Regions from separate parts of the Homo sapiens genome. Here regions 1, 2 and 3 are each linked to region 4. The links come from fine-mapping of genetic effects on gene expression. A gene starts in region 4. Each other region holds a variant in brackets. All regions are shown on one strand. Distances are between the middles of the regions. Region 1 overlaps STX18 (syntaxin 18). Region 2 holds the start of LINC03091 (long intergenic non-protein coding RNA 3091). Region 3 overlaps STX18 (syntaxin 18). Region 4 holds the start of STX18 (syntaxin 18).

Region 1 (5,486 bases), 120 kb after region 4:
CTGCAGCCAGGCAGGAAACTAGCCTGTCAGAGCAGAGCTGAGATGGGAGATGTCACGTGGCCAGGGCATGGATAACAGTGTGCCCTAGACCTGATCTGTAGGGTCAGCGGGCAAGGCCACCATGAGGCATTCTGGCATGACCAGCACTTGAGATCACTTTGACCAAGGATTGGATAACAGGTTGGAGGCAAGTGAGAAACGGTGAGGGTGGAATGTGGACGGTAGGGGAAGGGCTGAATACAGCAAGTGCATGTGCGGGGGCGAAACTGGTGGACTTAGGAAGGGGCGTGTGTGTGAAGAGCGCCTGCATAGAGCACAGCTGGGGTACTTGGAGGGGAGGGGTCCTGGGTGGGAAGGAGGCTGCTGGGGAGACCCTGCAACTCATTTCCGCCCTAGGACAATGGCAACAAGGTCAGGCTGTTGAATGAAGTGCCAGCATAGCCCGTGGTGGTCAGCTGCCTCCCATAACCATTGTTTCCCTTGTATTTTTGGTTTACTAAGCAAGTGATAAGCCAGATCTTCCATCGATTCGGAGCCTCCAGAGGCTTGCTTGTATGTATCCCTCCCACTCCTGCTTACAGAATGCCTCAGAAAATATTTGTGGATTTGATGGCAGCTTTAATCTATAAGAAAGAAAGAACAACTGGAATGCCTTTGCAAAGTTATGTTCCACCCAGTTCCCGCCCTCAGGAAGCTCAGGGTGACACGGGAAGTTTGGGATGGGCACAGTTTATTACAAGGCAGAAAGGGACCGTTGGGCGCTACTATCCTAAGATATTTTCAGAAAATGGTAGGCCAAGGATAGGAATATGAGAAATAAGTTTGAGCTTAGGGGCCAGGGTAGGTGTCCTGGAGAAGTGGGGCCTGCGGGATGCATCGGGGAGGAAATGCAGGACGCCCCTGACTCCCTGCACATTGCGGGAGTTGAGTGGACACACGAGGACAGGGCTGTGGGGGCCTGCAGTGAGGGCAAGGAGCTGTTCCTGTCCATTCTCTGTGCTGAGTTTCAGGAGCTTCCATCCTTTTCTTTGGCCCATATCAAACTGGCAAGAATGGCTGGGAGAGCAACTGTCTGTGCCAAGCTCACTCAGCTCCAAGAAGCTCCCATGTATCCCTGGTGTCAGGGCACCCGTCCTCACCCAGCCTGAGCACTGGGAAACACGCTCCTCTGGCTCTGGGCCTCTGTCCCTGTTGAGCAGTGGAGTGGCCAGGCTCTGAAGTCAGAGGGGCCCAGAGGCAGCTCGGCCAAGCTGCCCACCTCCCCTTCCTCTCCAGACCCTCCCCACACCAGATCCTTCTCCATATTAAAAAATATGTATAGTCCTTCAGTATAGTTCATGAGAGAAAACAACAACAAAAGAATTTTCTTAATAATGGTACTAGAGTCAGGAAGCAGGCCGTGGGATCCCAGGGGAGAGCGGGTAGGTAGATACAGCTACAGCCATAGCAGTCAGCTTGTACCCCTGGAGTGCAGTGGTTGAGATGGAGAAGTCAATTACCAGGCAGCACAGCTGTTTTTTAAAACTTTCTCCTGAAAGCAGGGACGTTGTTCACACTAATGCTAACGGTCGTCCAGCACCGGCTGCCACGTTGCCGCAGCTGGAAATGGGGGCTTCGGCAGTGATTCCTGGAGCGTAGGTCCGCTTTCTTGCTAGACTCTTGCCTAAGTTCAGTATGATGTCATCCTGAGTGTGTCTGTTTCCTCACAGTTTGAACAGGAAAATCAGCGACTAATTGGTGAAATGAACAGCTTGTTTGATGAAGTGAGGTATGTTTGTAGCTCCTCTGTGAGCTGATAGCCTGCTTTACAACTTTTCCAGGAACTAGGAACTTTATTTACCTTGGTGCCCAGGCATCCCCATGGGGCCCTTGGGCTGGTGCAGCCCCCCTCAGCCATTTTGACTGGGCTGGGGTGGGCATGTGGCCTGAATCCACAACTCCCTCAGCTTGTGGGCCTGTGGGTTACCTCCTGCCTGCTGCCACTGCTGCGGGGGGCCCAGGTGCTTCCCACCCCGAGAGATACAGGAGTGACTACAGATTACCTGCGTATAATTTCCACCACCATTCGGGCTGTTTCCACGCAGCGACTCTGAAATGAAATGGGGCCCTTATGAAGGGCAGCTAACCAAGGGAAGCCCTCTTCTGCAAATGGTTCCACTGGGGTCTGCCTGCTCCTGTACCCACCAGGGAGTCAGGAATGCAGAAGGCAAGGCCTTGGTCACTCACACATGCACCC[G/A]TTAGCCTCTAGTTTCTGTGGGAAGGCTTGGAGCATGCTGAAAGTAAGGCCCAGGACTTTGCAGAGCCTGTTGTATTGTGGACATGTCCCCCAAATAAAATCAATCCTGATGCTGCACTCACACAGCCTGAGGACTTTCTCAGTGTAGGTGTCAGCCTCCAAGGGGCTCTTCGCCTTCTGCCCTCAGAGATGGACCTCCTAGTCCTCCTCTGACAGCCTAGCTTTCACTGTCTGCCCCACTACCGCCCCCACCCCGCTACTCCCCCATGCCCAGATACTCACTGGCTTTTCTTCCCACATCTCCTCCCCTGCCCCCTGCCACTGTGATACTGTTGGGATTCATCACTGCTTCCACCTGGCCAGGAGCTCAGCTCCCACCACTTTTTGCCTCCTGTCACTTCCTGTCGCTGCTTTGTGCTGGAACAGCAGTTGACTTCAGCTTGGGCCAGCTTCTGTTTCTAAATAGATGTGCCCCCACCCGCCCCCCAGGGTAGCCCATGCTGCCCCTGACACCAGGAAGATGGCTAGCCCAAGTGTTTCAGATCCGACAGAACACTCCGTTGCCAAACCAAGACATGGCATTTTCTAAATGAATCAGAGGAGCTTTTTTCTTGGAACAGGGAGTTGGTTTGAAGGTAAATACACTTTTTTCTTTAACCTGCTGAGCATTAACAAAGCTGGATCATCAGCATATTCTGACCTTCTGAATCCCCACCATGTGTTACCATGGTGATGAGGCTAGGCAGAGAACTTACTGGAGACTGCTTTCTGTAACTGGGGCACAACCAGGCCCTCCCCATTCCCCGAGCAGTGACACAGAATGCAAAGGGCACTGCACACACCCACCTCTTGGGACTGAGGGTCAGTTGGCATGGTAGAGTGGACTTCCAAAAAGACCAGTGTGCTAGGCTATGCCAGAAGACAGGGAAGGTGACCCAGTAAGGAGAGTTCGCCTTCCTCTCCCATCTCCTCTTCCCCCAGCCGACACAGTGTGCCCCCTGTCTCTCCCACCTTCACGTAGAAGATAGGATTTCTTTAGAAGTGTGTAACAGTCCTGTTAGATTACCAAGTGCTAATAGTTAATATGTAATCTGTTCTTTTTATGAAGGCAAATCGAAGGGAGAGTGGTTGAGATTTCCAGACTCCAAGAGATATTCACGGAAAAGGTTTTGCAACAGGTAAAAAAACAAAAACAAAGGAGCTGTATGTTTTCACTCAAAGGGGAATGTACTTGAGAGCACGAGACATTTTTCCCAAAGGCTGCTGCTCTACACAGCCAGGAGCAGAGCCATGTGTTGCTAGCAGGTGTGTGTGCGCAGAGCTCCTCAGGGAAAAGCTCTCACTACCCAGAGCTGCCTCTGCACACGTGTGATGGAGGAGGAGCTCCCCACAGGGGACCCACTGACCACCCCATGTGGTAGCACATGCGGTGGCACGTGGGAGGAGAGTCCAGGCCTGGCAGTCAGGGTTCTGGATGTGCTGGGTAAGCTAGGTAGCCCCCACAAGCTACAGTTTCCCATCTATAGGAGGGAGGGACTCCTGCAGGGTTATTCTCTGTTTGAGAGATAACTGCAGAAGCATCCAGCACGATGCTGACGGGCAGTTGCTTTTCAGTCAGTAGGTTACAGGAGCTCAGACCCAGGCCTCTCACAACGCGCGGTCCATGCCACCTCAGGGATGGTGTCTGCGTGGGAAATAGGATTGTTCTTTTCAAGTGAATTTTCTGAAATTCTTCCAGCCAATAACTGGCAAAACTTTTCAAGACCTGATAAATTTGCCCTTTTATTTTTAGCATCCAAAGACTATGGGAACGTTTGAAAGACAAAATTTTCTCCAGTATTTTAAACTGGACTACTTGACTTAAGATACTTCACTCACAAAATGACTTTCCATAAACCACACAGCCAGAGTGAAATCATTGTAAATGAGGTACATTAAGTCTAACAGTGGTTTGCAAGTTCGGGTTCATAGGAGTCGCCCTTTTTAATAACACTACCCTGCTTCAAACCTCCCAGCGGCTCCAGGGGGCCTGGGAGGGGCGTGCAGAGCATAGGCAGAGCCTTGCCTTGGCTCACCGGGAGTTTCTTTTTCTTTTCTTTTTTTTTCTTTTTCTTTTTTTTTTTTTTGGAGACAGAGTCTTGCTGTGTCGCCCAGGCTGGAGTGCAATGTTGCTATCTTGGCTCACTGCAACCTCATCCTCCCAGGTTCAAGCGATTCTCCTGCCTCAGTCAGCCTCTTGAGTAGCTGGGATTACAGGCATGCCACCACGCCTGGCTAATTTTGGTATTTTTAGTAAAGACGGGGTTTCACCATCTTGGCCAGGCTGGTCCCGAACTCCTGACTTCAGGTGATCCACCTGCCTTGGCCTCCCAAAGTGCTGGGATTACAGACGAGAGCCACTGCGCCCGGCCCACTGGGAGTTCCTAAGTCCTGAGGAACAATGTGTCTTTCTTGTTTTTTCCATCAGTGTTGCATTGTAGTTCATATTGATTCTCTCATTGGAACCTTGGCAGTGGTCACTTAGTTCACACTTTGAGACTCTCTAAAAAGGGGTGATGATGAGGCAAAGCCATCCCAGTAATATTCATTGCTGGGAATCAGAGGCCACATGCTGCCTTCCTCCCTACAATGTGTCAGTCAGGTTTCTCTAAAAACCCACGCTAGCATTCATTCTGCCCTGACCCTGTTAGGAAGCAGCTTCACCACCACCGAAAGGAGGAGAGAAGCAGGCACTCCTGCTTGTAAGGACGTCTAGCACCGTCTCTGCTCCTGTGGGGCCAGACGCCCCCTGTGTTATCCCACGCTTCTCAAGCTTTTCAAGGCTTCGTTTGGAGTAAACGTTTTCTGTAAGCATCCTGCATCCTATTTTGATTTTTAAATTTTAGCCTGTTTTTTAAGAGATATGATGATAGTAAAACACAAAGCACTATTTTTGAAGCTAGCATATGTATTTCGAAGCACATACATTTTAAAGCTTACTTCTGTGGACTTCAGAAAGAAATGAGAGACTAGAAGGGAAGCCCCTGGCATATGGTGGCTGCTCCACAAACAATAGCTCTTAGGTTTTTGTCCGTCACCGGCGAGTGGCGCAGGAGGGATGGTAAGTGTGGCGGAAGGAGCACTGCAACAAGATGGGGTCTCAGCCCTGCGCGGTGGCTCATGCCTGTAATCCCAGCACTCTGGGAGGCCGAGGCGGGAGCATGGTGTGAGCTCAAGAGTTCAAGACCAGCCTGGGCAACATAGGGAGACC
Region 2 (5,486 bases), 36 kb before region 4:
ATGTTCACAGCAGCATTTCTCATAATGGCCAGAAACTGGACACAGATATTCTTCAGTGGGTAAATGGTTAAAGAAACTGTGGTACTTCTATGCCATGGAACACCACTCAGTTAAAATTAAAAAAAAAAACAAAACACTACTGATGCATGCCATAACTCAGTGACTCTCAAGAGAATTAGACTGAGTCAAAAAGCCAATCCCAGAAGCATATACTTCCACTTACAGAACATTCTCGAAATAATGAAATTATAGAGATAGAGAACAGGTTTAGTGTTACAAGAATGAGGGATGCTGGGTGACATGGAGAAGTAGATGTGATTATTAAAGGCTGCAGAAGCCTGTGCTGACAGAGCTGTTGTGTATCTTGACTGTGGCGCTACATACATGGACCTACATACATGTTAAAATTGCAAAGAACTAAATACACTCACATGAGGACAAGTAAAACTGAGGAAATCTGAATAAGGCTGGTGGATTTTATCAGTGTCAATATCTTTGTTATGATATTGTAGTACAGTTTTGCAAGATGCTCCCTTTGGAGAAAACTGGATAAGAGTTACACAAATCTCTCTGTATTACTTCTTACAACTGTGCGTTCATCTACAATGATCTTTGATGTCAGTCAGCCAAGGTCAGGTAATGTCCTGACTCCATCATTTACTAACTAGGTGACCTTGGGCAGGCAAACATCCTAAAGGCTCAGTTTTCTCACCAATGAAGTGGAGATAGTTAAGAGTTCCCACTCCCTAGGGTGAAGTGAGAATGAAGTCACTCAGCATAGTGCCCAGACAACATAAATCCTTCACAAATGTCACCTTAAGGAAAATTGCATAGTTACAAGTGAGAAGAGTGGAAGTGACTGGGTCACCCCAAAACGAGCCAGAATCCTGGTCTCTGAAGCTGGGTTCCAGGCGGTGAGACAGGAAAGGATCAAAGTGAGAAATCTGTGGGTGGATACACTGATTTTCTCCTCCTGACGTTTTTGTGTGTGTGTGTGTGTGTGTGTGTGTGTGTGTGTGTTGGGGGAGGGAAGAATTAGGAGCGGGGTGGGGGTGCATTAGGAGACAAAGGAAGAAGGGGTCAGAAAGCAGGCACCAAAAAAAAAAAAATGCTAAGAAAATCAAAGGGCTGCATGGAAACAATCCTTTCAGGGACTATTGTGCTCTTGCCCAGCTCCTCCACCGGGACTGAATGGATTCCTCAGCCGTGTCCTCCTCTCCCACCAGGGTGCCTGTAGGGGTCAACTGGGTTCAAGGATGTGACAGCTGCTCAGGACAGGGGAAAGCACTGCACAAATGTTTGCTGATGGTGACGATGACGATGTTGATTTTTGTATCTGTGGTTGGAAGGATCCCTCTGGAATCATTTCACATTCTGTGCTCTCCTGGCTGACCCAAATCTGGGCAACTGGGTTTTTGTTGTTGTTGTTGTTTGTTTGTTTTTTGTTTTTGTCACTCTCTTTGTGCCCACTGCCAGGGCTCAAGGTCTGTCCCTTCAGAGCAAGAGGTGACCTTAGAAGTCCTGCTTGCTCCTCAGTGAATCCACAGATGGGCAAAAGTAACTGCATCCTCTGGGAGCTTGTTAGAAGTGCAGGATGTCTGCCCCCAGCAGGTCTCCTCATCAGGCTCCACATTTTAACAGGATCCTCGGATGATTTGAGAAGCTCTGATCTAGTCCAGACTTCTGGTTCCCTGAGGAGGAAACAAAGGCTCCAAGAGGGTAAGGGACCTGCTCCAAGTCACAAAGAATGCTTGTGCCAGGGCTGGAACTGGCACCCTGGCTCCTGGGCCCCCAGACAGCTGTCTTTAGTCAGAAGCCTTTGGGTAAAATAGGTTGTGGAGGACTGGATGTGAGATTCCTTTGTAAGGAGGAAAGCTGTCTTCTGCCCTGAAAGCTGTTCTAGTGGGAACACAGTGTCCCTCACTGACCTCATGCAGCTGTGGTTTGGGTACAGGTAAGAAGAAAGTCCATGCAATTTGCAGATATATAAAATCTCTCCTCTTCCAGAGAAGGCTGTGCAGAAACATCATAGCAGTTAGATTGCTTTTGCATTGACTCAGACCTCTCTGTGCCTCAGTTTCCTCATCTGGAAAAGATGTTCCCTCCTGCAATGAGCACCTGCCACATGCCAAGCCCAATGCCTGGTGGTCACACAAGTCACAATGGCATGAGACACACAGAAAGACCATGGCAGTGTCTGCTAAGGATTCAAGGAAAAGTGAGGAGAGTGCACCCAGAAAAAAAAATCACAGAGAATCACAGGCTATCACTGGAGAAAATATCTATTTGACCCCATTTGCGAAAGTAGGCCATTAGAACTTTACCTTTCCCTAATGCTCAGTTGCATGAAACCAAACTGCTTCTTCCATGAACCCATATGAGAGAATGATGGCACTGAAAGGAGCTTCAGATAGGAAATTTTCTGATCCACCTTCATTTTCCAGAAGGGGAAACTGAGGAACAGAGAGGTGCAGAAACTTCCCTGGGGACACACAACATGAGTAGTAGCACCATGTTATGGACAGAATGTTTGTGTTCCCTCCATATTCATATGTTGAAGCCTTAACTCCCAAGGTTGGTATTTGGAGGTGGGGCCTTTGGAGATAGTTTAGTTGAGATGAGGTCATGAGGGTGGGATCTTCATGACTGGATTAGTGCCTTTATAGGAAGAGACCAGAGAGCTTGTTCCCTCTCTCTCTCCACTATGTGAGAACACAGCAAGAAGGCAGCCATCCGCAAGCCAGGACAGGAGCCCTTACCAGACAAGAATCAGCTGGCCCCTACTTCTTGGACTTTCAGCCTCCAGACCTATGAGAAGTCAATGTTATCTGAGCCACCCTATGGCTATGGTATTTTGTTATAGCAGCCAGAGCTGACTGAAACACACCAGAACTACCCATCCTTTTTCTGGTACACTTAATATCTCATGTTCTTCTACCCCAACCTCTCATGAGAAACTCACAATTCAATTCAGCACTGACAAGTACCCTCCTTCTATTAGAGTTAGGCTGGTGATTGAGACATGGTTACAATCACACTGGACTCCAGGGAATCTACAGCTTAGCAGGGCCTGACCTGAGAAGGTCCTGCT[C/T]ACATGAAAGCCAGGACACTAGAAAGATGGGAGGTGCCCCACCCCTAGCATGGGGAGGAGGTGGGGGACTGAAGTGGGCAGGACCATCCTAGGGGTTGGGTACCCTAAGAAAGTTGCCTGGGACCCCCATGCTGCTGGAAGGGATTTCCAACAAAAATGCTGGAGACCTGGAAAAGTAATTTTTGGCTCCACCAGGAGGAAAGCAAACTACAAAGTCAAAACTAATAAATGTCTAATTAAATGTCTACAGAAGGTAGCACCGTGTCAACATCATTAAAATGCTAAATTAATTATTCCTAAAAATTTCATTACATGTGAAAAGGATTTAATTTTCTCACTTTGCAAGAATTTCCCAGTACACCCAATCATTTCTGTGAAATCACAGCCACTGTAAATTAGTGCCTTGTAGCCAACTAAAAGCAAAATCAAAATTATTTTTAAAATATAGTTTCAGATATTATGGAATAAAAAGGCCATATGTAATGTGTTTTGAAGTTTGCTATGATGACGGCCAGGCTCCACAAAACAAAGGTAGCTAAGGGCCTGCAAGGTACTGACTTGGTACCTTAACTAGCTGGTGTCACAGTCCCTGCTGGGCATCCCTGGGCAGGTCACTTCACATCTTTGAGCTTCAGTTTTTCCCCTTCTGAAATATCCAAGGGGTCAGTAACCCTGCCTGCGAGAGCTTGTTGTGAGGATCCAAAGCCTCGACCCAGGCAGTAAAGAGGCATAAAAGCCAGACAGGGCCTCACTCGCCTGGGACCCAAAATTTAAGAGGGCGCCCAAAATCTCAATAACCAAGATAAAGAATACTTTAATGTAATATATTTTTAATCAAAGTAAATATATTTCTAAATTTAAATAAATAAATGAAGGGTTTTTAAAAACACATACACACACAAGACGACAAAAATGTCAAATATTTAAACATCTGTCTGGGACTCTGAGGCCACCCTGCCCAGCAGCATCCCTTCTAGCTCTGTGATCTGGGACTCCTTCTGCGCCTCGCTTCACAGATCTGTACAGTGGGGTGATCTGTACAATGGGATCTGCACAATTGGGTGGTTTATACAATGGGGTGATCTGTACAATGGGGTGATGTGTACAATGGGGTGATGTGTACAATGGGGCGATCTGTGCAATGGGACGAGCTGTACAATGAGGTGATCTGTACAAAGGGGTTATCTGTACAATGAGGTGATGTGTTCAATGGGGTGATCTGTGCAATGGAGTGATGTGTACAATGGGACAATCTGTGCAATGGGACGATCGGTACAATGAGGTGATCTGTACAATGGGGTGATCTGTGCAATGAGGTGATCTGTACAACGAGGTGATCTGTACAATGGGGTGGTCTGTACAATGGCTGATGTGTACAATGAAGTGACGTGTACAATGTGGTGAGCTGGACAGTGGGGTGAGCTATACAATGGGTTGATCTGTAGAATGGAGTGAGCTGGACAATGGGGCTACTCACCCCACCCACCTTGCAAAGTGATGCAGGACAGGAAATGGGTTAATAGAAGCTCGGATTTAGAAGAGTGCCTGGCACGCCTAAGGGTGAGGTGCGAGGGGGGTGCTATATTGCCCTCAGCGGGCACATCGCGCGTATCGGAGAAAACCCAGGTCACACTGTCACCCACGAGGTTACGCTGGGGCCGGGGCTTGGCGCAGGCGCGTTGTGGTCGCCGTCGGCGTGGCCTGCGCTACCGCTCCCGCCCTCAGAGAGGCTCTTGGGGGCTCCGGAGGCAGCGAACCGGGCGCCGGGCGCTGGAGGCCAGGCTCTTCTGCCCGTGGGACCCCGCCGCGCGCCCGTCTCCGCCTTTGTCCCGCTCAGCGCCGCGGGCCGCACGCTCCTCCCAGCGCCGCCAGGCGGCCCGCGCCCTTTGTCTGCCCTGCGGCGTCTGGGGCGGCGCTGACACTTGATCCCGAGGCCCAGCGAGTCCCTCATTAGGCGCGGCCGCACTTCAAAGGGGGCGCGACCGTCCCTCTCAGACGGCGACCCGGGCGGGGCCGCGCCAGCCGAGCGGTTAACCCGCTCCTTTGGGGATGGGAGGCGCCTTCCCCAAAGGGGTCCAATAATGAAACTTTTTGTCCATTGCAGGCTCAAGCCGTCTGTGTAATTATCTTAAACTTTTTCATTTCGGAAATGAAACAGCTCCTCCCTTCACCGCCACCTTGGCTATTTCTGGGACCAAAGGAATCCTTGAAGCTGACCGGGCAGGAGAGTCCACGCTGGGAGTAAAATCACTACAAACGTTTGTAGGGGGGCCCTGGCTGAATTAGTTCAATTTCAGGGAGAAAACTGGTGTGTGTGTGTGTGTGTGTGTGTGTGTGTAAAATCACTGCAAATGTCTGTCGGGGCGTGGCTGGATTAGCTCAGTTTCCGGGAGAA
Region 3 (5,486 bases), 78 kb after region 4:
TTTTAAAAATCGAGCCTCCAAATCTTCAGGGAGGCTGATTTGAGTAATAATAAAACCCCAGTGTCCCTTTTAGACAGCTCTATGTATATTTAACTCTTTCTCTATTGTAGTTCCCCTGTCTTGATAAATCAGCTCTATCTGGGCGGTGGGCAAGATGAACCTGTTGGGCAATTACAGTTGTTCCTAAATGCATGTCATAGGCACAGGCTTCTCCCAGTCCCCATTGCCACTGTCCTGCTCGCCCAGCACCTGTGAGCAGCACCATTCCCATGCATGCTGCCCGCTCCTCCCATCCGCTCTAGAGTGCTTCAGTGCAGCCTTTGTCACTTGCCTGATCTCTTTGTTCTCAACTCCCTGCTCTTTGTCCCTTCCTCTCCTGGTCTGTCTGGAAGGCACAGGTGTAGTCCTTATCATCGTAGATGGAATCACGTGCTTCCCTCTTCAAATCCCTTCTCTGCCTGCAGGATGTGGCCCATCCATACTTCTTAGATAAGCAAGACTTTTCATTACCCTCACCCACTTTTCCATCCTACCCCTTTCCTTCATGTGCCCTACAGCTGCATTCAGAATTAACATTTGTTCTGCCTCCAGGCCTCTACTCACACTATCAGGTTGGCCTGTTGCTCTTCACTCCAATCCACACATGTCACATGTTCACATGCTTCCATCCTGAGAGACCCATTTATCACCACCACCTTCTCGGTAGAGCCTGCCCTGGCCCTGCCTTCCTATCTGAAAGCCATCTCTCCTGCCTCTGAATACTGACAGCTCTTTTTCTGTGCTTTTCTTATGGTACTTTTCACATGTGCCTGGTAGAAGAGTAATTTGTTCGTAATCACTTCTACCACATTTCTTGAGGTGAAAAACTGTGTCCTACTCATCTCTGCATGTTTATAGTGCCATGATTTGATCAATTTGATTCATTAATCAGCTTATTCATTCTGCAGTTATTTATTGAGTGCCTACCATGTGCCATAGACTATGCCAGGCATGGAGTATAAAATAGTGAACAAACACAAACATGGTTGTCCCTGCCTTCATGGAGCTGCTAAGGTATTCATGTCAACAGGTAACATTGCAGATATGATAGGTACTGCAAAAACAGTACAGATAGCTTTTTATTTTTCCAACTTTTAAGTTCCTGGGTACATGTGTAGGATGTGCAGGTTTGTTACATAGGTAAATGTGTGCCATGGTGGTTTGCTGCACAGATCATCCCATCACCCAGGTATTAAACCCAGCATCCATTAGCTATTCTTCCTGATGCTCTCCCTTCTCCCACCCCTGATCCTCCAACAGGCCCCAGTTTGTATTGTTCCCCACCGCCTCATGTCCATGCGTTCCCATAATTCAGCTCCCATTTATAAGTGAGAACATGTGGTATTTGGTTTTCTGTTCTTACGTTAGTTTGCTGAGGATAATGGATTCCAGCTCCATCCATGTCCCTGCAAAGGACATCATCTCATTCCTTTTTATGGCTGCATAGTATTCCATGATGTATATGTTCCACATTTTCTTGATCCAGTCTATCATTCATTGATGGGCATTTAGGTTGATTCCATGTCTTTGCTATTGTGAATAATGCAGTGATGAACATACAAGTACTTGTCCATGTGTCTTTATAATAGAATGATTTGTATCCCTTTGGGTAGATACCCAGTAATGGGATTGCTGGGTCAAATGGTATTTTTGCCTCTAGGTCTTTGAGGAATCGCCACACTGTCTTCCACAGTGGTTGAACTAATTTATGCTCCCACCAACAGAACAAAGATAAAACTTACCAGAATCTCTGGGATGCAGCTAACACAGTGTTAAAAGGGAAATTTATAGCACTAAATGCCCACATCAAAAAGCTAAAAAGATCTCGAGTTAACACCTAACATCAAAACTAAAAGAACAAGAGCCAAGAGCAAACAAACCCCAAAGCTAGCAGAAGACAAGAAATAACCAAGATCAGAGCTGAACTAAAGGAGATAGAGACACACACAAAAAAAAAAACGCTTCGAAAAAATCAATGAATCCAGGAGCCACTTTTTTGGAAAAATCCAGGTTTTTGCAAAAAATTAATGAGATAGACTGTTAGCTAGACTAATAAAGAAGAAAAGAGAGAAGATTTAAATAAACACAGTTAGAAATGTTAAGAGGGATGTCACCACTGACCCCACAGGTATACAACTGCATGGAAATCAAACAACCTGTTCCTGAATGACTCTTGGGTAAATAATGAAATTAAGGCAGAAATCAAGAAGTTCTTTGAAACTACTGCAAACAGGTAGCTTTTGAGGAATTTAGCCTTGTCAGAGAAAGTGTCCTTAAAGAAGTGACATTTGAGCTGAGCTCTGAAGGAGTACGAGTTACCTAGGTAAAGCAAGAAGGAGGGAAGGGAATCCAAATGCAAAGGGGTTGGCACGTGCATACACCCTGCAGACAGCGTCTGTCCTGTAGTGAAACATGCAGAGATGAAAAAGATAGTTTCTCACACACTAAATATTTATCGAGCAGATGAAGGAATGATGCAAGTCATCGAAAAT[G/T]CCATTTGGAAAGAAAAAGAGAAAAAAACATTATAAGCAACACTTCTAAAACGCTTTCTGGAATAGACTCCAGCTCTCCATAGACAGTGGGAGTACAGGTGTCTTGTCTCGTCTCTTCCCCTAGCTCCATTTGCACTGGCTTTAGGATGGCATTTTACCGTAGGACTCATCTTCAAATGTATTATGTAAATTAATGAAAAAGTTGGATTTGACAGATAAGATAACATCATTAGGAGCATCTTTTTAGGATTTCATCTTTATAAAACGAGGGGTGGTTGCCTTTCAGAAGCATTCCTGTCACAAAGATAGAGAATATAAAATAAATCCTGCTTTTTTTTAACTTTGTCAATATATGCAAAAATGGAAATACTTCTTATAAATTCTCCAATAGAGAAAAATAATTATACCCTAGTTGAATTTTAAATAATCCTTGATGCTTTGTCTACTTGCACTTAACATCCATAGGCAATTTTATGCTTTTAAATGCACTTCATTTGCATTATTTTGGAATATACTAAAATAATTATTCCGATGCATAGTACCAAGAAAACCTTATTTTTAAGCTCTGAGTTAAAAATAGTTGGTTAACACTAGATCGCAGTGTCAATTTTATTTCTAAAGGTGTGTATGTGTATCAAATACTGATTTGATAGGCTGTAAAAAATGGAAGCTACAGTGATTTTGTAAAACTTTACAAAACTTGTATAAAGCTCTCAATTTGTAGCTTCTTTCTTTAGTATCTGACAAGTTAGGTTGACGAGGTGGTTGTAAATATCTTTCATACAAATCACTTATTAACTTCCCTTTTCCTTGAAAAGAAATCCAGCAAAGTAAATGCTTAGAGTGTTGGTTTGATTCACACCACTCCTTACGAACCATGTGAATCTGTGAAACTCAGTGTCTTCCTCTAATGCTACAGGTCAGCAAATAACAGCCACAGGCCAAATCTACATTTTAAATATACTTTTAAATGTAGTTACATATTTTAATGTTGGGGAAAAAGTAATAAGGATATTTTATCACATGTGAACATTATGTGAAATTCAAGTTTCAGTGCCCATAATAAAGTTTTATTGGCACACAGCCACGTTCATTTGTTTACATATTGTCTAGGGCTGTTTTTATGCTACAACAGCAGAGTTGAGTAGCTGTGATGGGCTACAAGGCCCACAAAGTCTAACATGTTTACTCTCTGGCCCTTTTCAGAAAAAATTTGCAAAGCCAACAGTGGGAGGGATACTCACTCAGGAAGCAGTTGAGAGGTTCAAAGCAGACAGTATGATTCAAATGCAATGTGAAAAGAACAACACAGTGGCATCCGGGTGTTCTTCTGCAACTTTGCAGTTGTTTTAAGCTTTCGATGTAATAGTGATGTTAAGGCAGTTATTATACTCAAACAGCAAAAGGAGGCTCCTGCACACTGTTTTTCAGTGTTCCCAGACTACTGCAGCATGGATTCTCATCTTAGTACAGTAAAGAAGGGCCTAAGCCTTCCCCTTTCCCAGCTACAAGGGCAGCAAATGCTAGGACTGAGGATTGGGTTCCCTAGGGGCCAGTGCCAGCTCTGCCACTTAAGGGCAGATAACTTCAGAAGATAGAACTGTTGTCCCCGAGGCATTCTTCATTTTGTTAGGTACATCGCCTCATTCTAGAAACTCAGTCTTTTTTTTTTTTTTAAGGTGGTTTTGCTATGTTGTCCAGGTTAGCTTCAAAATCCTGAGCTCAAGTGATCCTCCTGCCTCAGCCTCCTGAGTAGTTGGGACTATAGGCATATGACATGATACCCAGCTAGAAACTCAGTCTTTTATCTTTTACTCATTTTCCCGAGGCCAGTTGTTCATTGCCAACTCATGCACACTGAATTCTACTCCACCCCCTGTTTTGGTCCCTGTGAAAGAGCATGGGCTTTGGGGTCAGTCACACCTAAGTTCCAGTCCCAATCCTGCCATGTATTTATCATGTGAATGAATATAACTTGCCTTTGTGCTAGTTTTCTTTTTTATAAAATGTGGATGATGTTCTCGTGAGGATTAAATTAGGTGGGTATGAGAGTTCCTGACACATAGAAGTCTCCTGGTGAATGATAATTGAATTGGAACCCCATTTGACCTATGCTGCAGTTGCAGGGGGTTGGAGGGTGTTGGTTATTGAACAAGACAAAACCCACCTCTGTTTCCTGCCAGAGAGCTGGGAGGAGGGAGAAAGAAAGAAATGGAGGCAGGAGTCAGATCAACACAGTGGAGACCCACGTGTCATATCAGCTTTATCATTGGTAAAATCTAGGTCAGCAAACAAAGCTTTGGTTTGCAGGCGGGTGGCCTTGTTGATACTCTGCTCTTGAATTAGACACACTCAGGCATTAGTGCCACTGCGCAGCCGCAGCCCCTGGAGCACAGACAGCAGGGACAGGCCCCTTTGCAACATAGGAGAGAGAGGAACAGAGCGGAACCTCTGCTGTCTCTAAGTAGGTAAAAGAGAGGAGAGAAAGGTGTGGTGACTATATGCACACCCCATGCTTTCTGCGAGGGGGCCAGAGGGAGGAGGCTCTGGGAGGAGGCAAGGTGTCATTTGGGGAAGTTGGTTCCCACAGAAACATGAGGATTAGGGAATAAGCATTCCCCCCGGTAGCCCAGGTTCTGTCCAGGTGGAGAAAGACCACCCTTATTGTCTCTCATCAAGTTCTCCCTCCCAAAGGTGGTAGACTGCTTAAAGCCTTTCTTTTTTACTCTTCTGCCCTCCCAGTGCAATGTGCTAGCCTTGGCCTGCTCCTAGGAACATTTTATGTGGAGTATGATCATGGAATTGAAAGAATATGTGTAGAAATACTGCCTTCAGACCTATGAGGCTTTGTTAGTTTGACATAATTAGGAAGCTGTAATTTTTTCCAGAATGTAGAGCTCAGACTTTATTGACCCATTTAATTTTTTTTTAATAATGACATTTTACTAGAGCAGA
Region 4 (5,486 bases):
CAAGATCTTTGTGACTTATTTAGGAATTTTATGTACTTGTGGTCACTTGTGGATTTACAGCCTGATGTTTTGAGCTCACTTGGGTCTTATATCCACCACAATCTTCTCTGCTCTTGCAAATCCAGACAGAAAACTTAGATCTTTGTCCCTACCCTTCTACCCAAAATATCCAACTGCACCAAACACACGGTTTACACAAGGCACCACTCACTGAAGGCTTGGTGTAGTTCAGCCTCCCTCCCACTCAAAGATCCTTCCCAGTTACCTACTTTGTACTTTCCCGGCCCCCTCCCTGGGTTCTGGCTTCTCTTTTCTTCCCCCCAATTCAATCCCCCTCACTTTATTATGCAGGGCAATCTCTCTTTCCTTCTACTCTACCCCAGGCTTAACTTTGCATGGCCAAAAACTGATTAATGTCTGGATTAAACAAAGGGCCATTTATGCAAGATAGAATCATTGGCAGAGATTTTGTAATTTCTTTCTCTTTTCCTCAGTAGGTGGAAGAAAGCTGTATGGAAATTTATTTTCCTTAAACTGCAAGAAGTGGCTACAGTTTGGGTTTAAATAATCTTTTCCTGGCCGGGCGCGGTGGCTCACGCCTGTAATCCCAGCATTTTGGGAGGCTGAGGCAGGCGGATCACGAGGTCAGGAGATCGAGACCATCCTGGCTAACACGGTGAAACCCCATCTCTACTAAAAATACAAAAGAATTAGCCAGGCGTGGCGGTGGGCGCCTGTAGTCCCAGCTACTCGGGAGACTGAGGCAGGAGAATGGCGTGAACCCGGGAGGCGGAGCTTGCTCCAGCCTGGGCGACAGAGCAAGACTCCGCCTCAAAGAAAAAAAAAATCTTTTCCTTCCTCCTTTCTGGTAAATATATACTTTCTTGACATCTATTTCTGATAAACTTTATTTTTTTAACACAGTGGTTCTCAAACTTTTGGTCTCAACTCTTTTGCACACTTAAAAATTATTAAGGGCTCTAAACAATTTTGGTTTATATTGACATTATCGACATTTACTATATGAGAAATCAAAACAAAAACTTGATGTTTTTGAAAGTCTTTTTTTGGAGTCTGGCTTAATAGAAAACAGCTGTTCTGCATTTACTCCGTTGCAATATCACAGTCTCCAGCAAACTCAACTGTATGCAACTCATAAGAAAATCAGAGCGAAAAGGCAAATAACATCTTAGTATTGTGAAAATTTTATCTTGATGACCATTAAAACTGCTGTTTTAATACATATTCTACTTGTGCTTCCTCTTTATGAAAAAAGAAATCTTGAAGAAATCAATGAGATTTTGAATTAAAACTGAACCATAGGCCAGGCACGGTTGCACGTGCCTATAGTCCCAGCTACTCAGGAGGCTGAGTCCGGGAGGATCGTTTGAGCCCTGGCGTTCCAGCTGTAGTGAGCTAGGATGGCGCCTCTGACTAGCCACTGCAATCCAGCCTGGGCAACATAGTAGACCCCCGTCTCAAAAAACAACACAAAACAGAACATGAACCTAAAATGCAGAAGAAACTCATTGATTGAGTTGTCAATTTTAATAGCTATGGCTCAAGACGGTACAATTAAAAACTATGCATGAAGGATGAAGAGAATCCAGCGGCATTAGGGCCACTCTTTCACCTTTGTCTCCATCTAAACTTCCTATTCATCCTTCAAATCTCTGCACAGGTGACGCCTTTTCTCTAAAGCCTCTTCCTTTACCACAAATAACAGTGATTATAATAATAACATTATTAACGATTACTACCATTTATTGGCCACTTACTAGGAGCCAAGCAACATCAAAACACAGCACGCGTCAGCTCACTTAATTTTCACAGTAAACCCCGAGGAGGATGCTGGCTTCACTTTAAAAAGAGGTGACTGAAGGTTGGAGAAGAAAGGCCTCTGGCCTCTAGCTCTGTGCCTTGCACACCTGATCTGTCTCAGCATTTATTGCATCCCGAGGGTCACCGTCCACGTGCCTCTATCCTGCTCAAGGTGAGTTCTTGCAGTCAAAGGTCAAGGGTGGCTCGTCTCCACTTCCCCCGCAACCAAACCGCCCGGTCTCAGTGAGGGAGCCGCCAGAAGGGAAGGAGCCTCCTAGCTTCCCGGTCCTCACGCTCCCGGAGCCCACACGCCCCAAACAGACACAGAAGAGCTCGCTGAGCTCTCCGCGCAGCTAAACCCTCCAAGCTTTGCTGGGAGAAACCGATGCCCGAGAGCGCGTCGCGAGGTTCCTCCTCCGCCAGGTGCGCCGGCTGAGGCCGGAACCTTTTTCCTCCCGCCGCGGTAGCAGGGCGCAGGCCGGAACCTTTCTTCTCGCGTCGCCGTTGCCGGGGGGAGGCGTGTGGGGCAGGACCAGTCCTTCAGCGGCCGGGTTCGCGCCGCGGTCGCCGGCTGCTTACGTGGGCGGGCCTAGTGTGGGGCTGAGGGTGCGGGTCGCTATGGCGGTGGACATCACGCTGCTATTCCGGGCCAGCGTCAAGACCGTGAAGACGCGGAACAAGGCGCTGGGAGTGGCGGTGGGCGGCGGGGTCGATGGCAGCCGGGACGAGCTGTTCCGCCGGAGCCCCCGGCCCAAGGGCGACTTCTCCAGCCGGGCCCGCGAAGTGGTGAGCTGGTTGCTATGGAAACGGCGGGTTGAGGAGGGGGCAGTCCTGCGACAGGGACCCCGGGCCCCAAACCAGACCCCGTCCCGTAAGCATTGTGTGAAGGGGGTGGCTCTAAGGGGGACAGAAGAGTTGGCCTCAGAGACCCTACAGCTTTTTGGGGGAAGGAACAGCCTTATTTTGAGGAAGGGGGACGCATATTGGGGAACAGATTTCTCCTGCGGCGACAGGGATTGGGGGACAAGAAAGGAGATCCTCAGAAATCTCTATCTGGAAAGTGCATGGGCGGCTTTGTGAGGTCATGAGTTCGCCGTCACTACAGACTTGCACTCAGGGGAAACCTCCTGACAGTCCTTCGCTTCCTGTTGCAGCACTGACCACACCATATTTGCCTGTTCTATTTACTTGTCTGCCTCCCACCCCTAGTTGAGATTAAAAACTGTATTCAGCCGAACTCTTTCTTCCCTTTGTCTCTGCAATAAGTAGGACTCAGTTCCTCTTGAGACGGGTTTAGGGTAATCTTTCGCAAACACAGTGTTACAGTCACCTCAACTACTTTCTGTTCCCTGATCAGAGCAGGTGTCCCTTCATCTCCCTGGGAACAGGAACCTTTTCCTTAAGGGCAGGGACAGTGTTGTTTTCATCTCAGAATGCATGACTCATAGCATTGCTTAGTAAATGTTTGTTGAATGAGTGAATGAACAAATGGCTGTCTTTCCCATTAAACAGAAAACTCCATAAGGGGAGAGCTGTTTGTCTTGTTCCCTTTTGTGTTCGTGACACCAAGGAGGTATCTAGGTTTTGTGGGGCCTACAGCTTATATAGTTCTGTCTGCCCTCTTCAAGAAATAAAAATCACCAAGAAAGATTCAGAGCTTTGGAAGATTGAAGAGAGGGACCCTAAAGCTTAAGCCTCATTAATTTCACAGTAAATCCTTCTCTGCTTGGCATACACTTGGCACTGTATAGACACTCAGATATTTTTGAATGAATGTAGTCATGCATGCATTAATGACAGTTAGCAGAGGATACTTAAACATTAGAAAGGGGATTGGACCAGATGAATACACTCGCCCTATTGATGACCGTCTATGAAGCACCTACCTTCTGACCAGCCTCGTGTTAGAGTAATATGATGTAAAAGCAGTGGTGGAGTAGACGGACATAGACATAAAACAAGTGCCATAAAGCCTTGCAGGTGTTGTGTAGGGCACAAAAAGAATGTGGTCAGTTCTACCTGAGGACCAGAAAAGGCTTTATAGAGGCGATGATGCCTAAAACAAATCTTGAAAGAGGATTAGTTGGTTCCAGTGCAGAAGGACATCTCAGGCTAAGAGAATAGTATGCGCTAAGCTGTGGAGGTAGGTAACAGTCTGACATAAGTTGGTTCAATAAACATTTGAGTGAGACTGGAATGTGGGACTCTCATAAAAATTGGACGCGGAGATCTTAAAGGGCTTTGTGTATCATTGCAGAGTTTGAATTTTGCCCTGTAGATGGTCAGATGTTATCTGGTAGAGAAAGCACCAGAGAAGGAGCCAAGAGACGAGGTTGTTGTCTGAACCCTGCAACTATTAGCTATATGATTTCATTAAGCAAGTTTTAAGACCTCAGTTTATTTACCTGTAAATGGTCCTTTTTTTCTCCTCCTCCTTTTAAAAAACTACCTTGGTCCTCTATATGTAACAAATTAAAGTGGGAGCTTCCTAGGTTGAAATAAGAGGAAGAGAAACAGGACACTCTCCCTCCCAGTTTGGCCCAAGCACTTCTTGAGATTCCTTTTGTAGAACTGTGGTATGAATATCACAGTATTGGCTTTTTAAGGGTCCCTTCTAACTCTGAAACCACTGATTTATTAACACTGTGCTAATTTTGAGTCCTGCTCAGGGAAAGGGGGGATTTGGGAATGGTAGAGACAGGAGGCACAGTTGGGTTGGCAAGCCCTTTGGAGAGCCCTGTGATCACTTCCACCTCTCCCTGAGTGGTGAAAATGTGTTTGAGTTTTGAGTTAATGGGCCTCAGGGACAGTAACAGTCCCATAGGGTGCTGAGTTCCCTGTCACTGGAAGTGATTAAACAGAGTGATGACTGCTTTTCAGAGATGTTTGAGAAAAGCTTTGTGCATATGTCACAGGGTTGGACCGCATGACAATGCAACTTGCAGTTCTGCTATGTATTGATGTGAGTAGGTGTCACATCACCTTAAGTGAGTTCATGGGCTGTGTTGTTCAGGGACACTGTCCCCCTGACGTAGAGGAAACATACATTCTTTTAAGCAATTTTGATTTTATGTTGTCATTGCTTTGTGTATTATCTCCTGTTCTTGCAACCGTTCCCCACTCCCCATCTTCTCTTGTGGGAAGTTTAACTAGAAGAGCTAGTGATGGATGTCCTGTGCTTTTACTACAATTAGATGTCAAAAGTTTGGCTGTTATTTTGTTTGGCCTGGATTCCTTATAGAGAAAAGTCTGGTAAATACCAGAAGCACATATTCTAATTCAGGTTTAGCCCTGGTTGTCAGACTTAATGAAATGTAATAAGTTATAGTATGCCTTTTGGTAAGTGCCTTCCTTGAAGCATTTGCTGTTACTTCTAGGATGCGTTTTATCTGGTTCAATTTCTATTCTTCCATTCCATTCCTCAAATATATGCCTGATGCCAGATTTCCATCTCACTGAATTGTTGTAGAGGTTATATTAAGTTGAATAAAATTGCATTGAAACTGCAATTTTATTGCAGTCCCTACCTTCCAACAACAGGCTGATTGCTTCTGCATCATTCTTTTAAACATTTAACTTTTATGCTCAATTTTACTAAATTTATATATACTCAAATGCATGTCTACCCATTAAATTACAAATGGAGAGTAACGACTTTTCAGATT

What was found. PIP is the estimated chance that this variant, and not a neighbour inherited with it, causes the effect.
Region 1: its variant is the best candidate, but not a certain one, in a credible set for the expression of STX18 in hippocampus (GTEx, PIP 0.59).
Region 2: its variant is the best candidate, but not a certain one, in a credible set for the expression of STX18 in whole blood (TOPMed, PIP 0.87).
Region 3: its variant is the best candidate, but not a certain one, in a credible set for the expression of STX18 in testis (GTEx, PIP 0.61).

Annotation. Positions count from the first base shown.
Region 1 is chr4:4,421,446-4,426,931 of GRCh38, reverse strand. It overlaps STX18 (syntaxin 18), which reads left to right. Exons shown (of 11, transcript NM_016930.4): 8 at 1,710-1,768; 9 at 3,345-3,414. Among named protein-coding and RNA genes, the nearest start is that of NSG1, 37 kb to the right of the region's middle. The variant G/A (reference allele first, on the strand shown) is at 2,237.
Region 2 is chr4:4,574,921-4,580,406 of GRCh38, reverse strand. The region is part of intron 2 of LOC124900165; the gene reads right to left. All of the region lies in intron 2 of STX18-AS1 (STX18 antisense RNA 1 (head to head)), which reads right to left. LINC03091 (long intergenic non-protein coding RNA 3091) reads left to right here and starts at 4,516. Exons shown (of 5, transcript NR_199719.1): 1 at 4,516-4,651; 2 at 5,196-5,349. RefSeq lists a silencer at 4,723-5,082. The variant C/T (reference allele first, on the strand shown) is at 3,092.
Region 3 is chr4:4,461,415-4,466,900 of GRCh38, reverse strand. The region is part of intron 2 of STX18 (syntaxin 18); the gene reads left to right. Among named protein-coding and RNA genes, the nearest start is that of STX18-IT1, 18 kb to the left of the region's middle. The variant G/T (reference allele first, on the strand shown) is at 2,532.
Region 4 is chr4:4,538,918-4,544,403 of GRCh38, reverse strand. It overlaps STX18 (syntaxin 18), which reads left to right and starts at 2,356. Exons shown (of 11, transcript NM_016930.4): 1 at 2,356-2,607. The coding sequence starts at 2,440. It overlaps LOC124900165, which reads right to left and starts at 2,273. Exons shown (of 6, transcript XM_047416490.1): 1 at 1,929-2,273. It overlaps STX18-AS1 (STX18 antisense RNA 1 (head to head)), which reads right to left and starts at 2,273. Exons shown (of 6, transcript NR_037888.1): 1 at 1,929-2,273. RefSeq lists enhancers at 2,188-2,482, 2,207-2,486.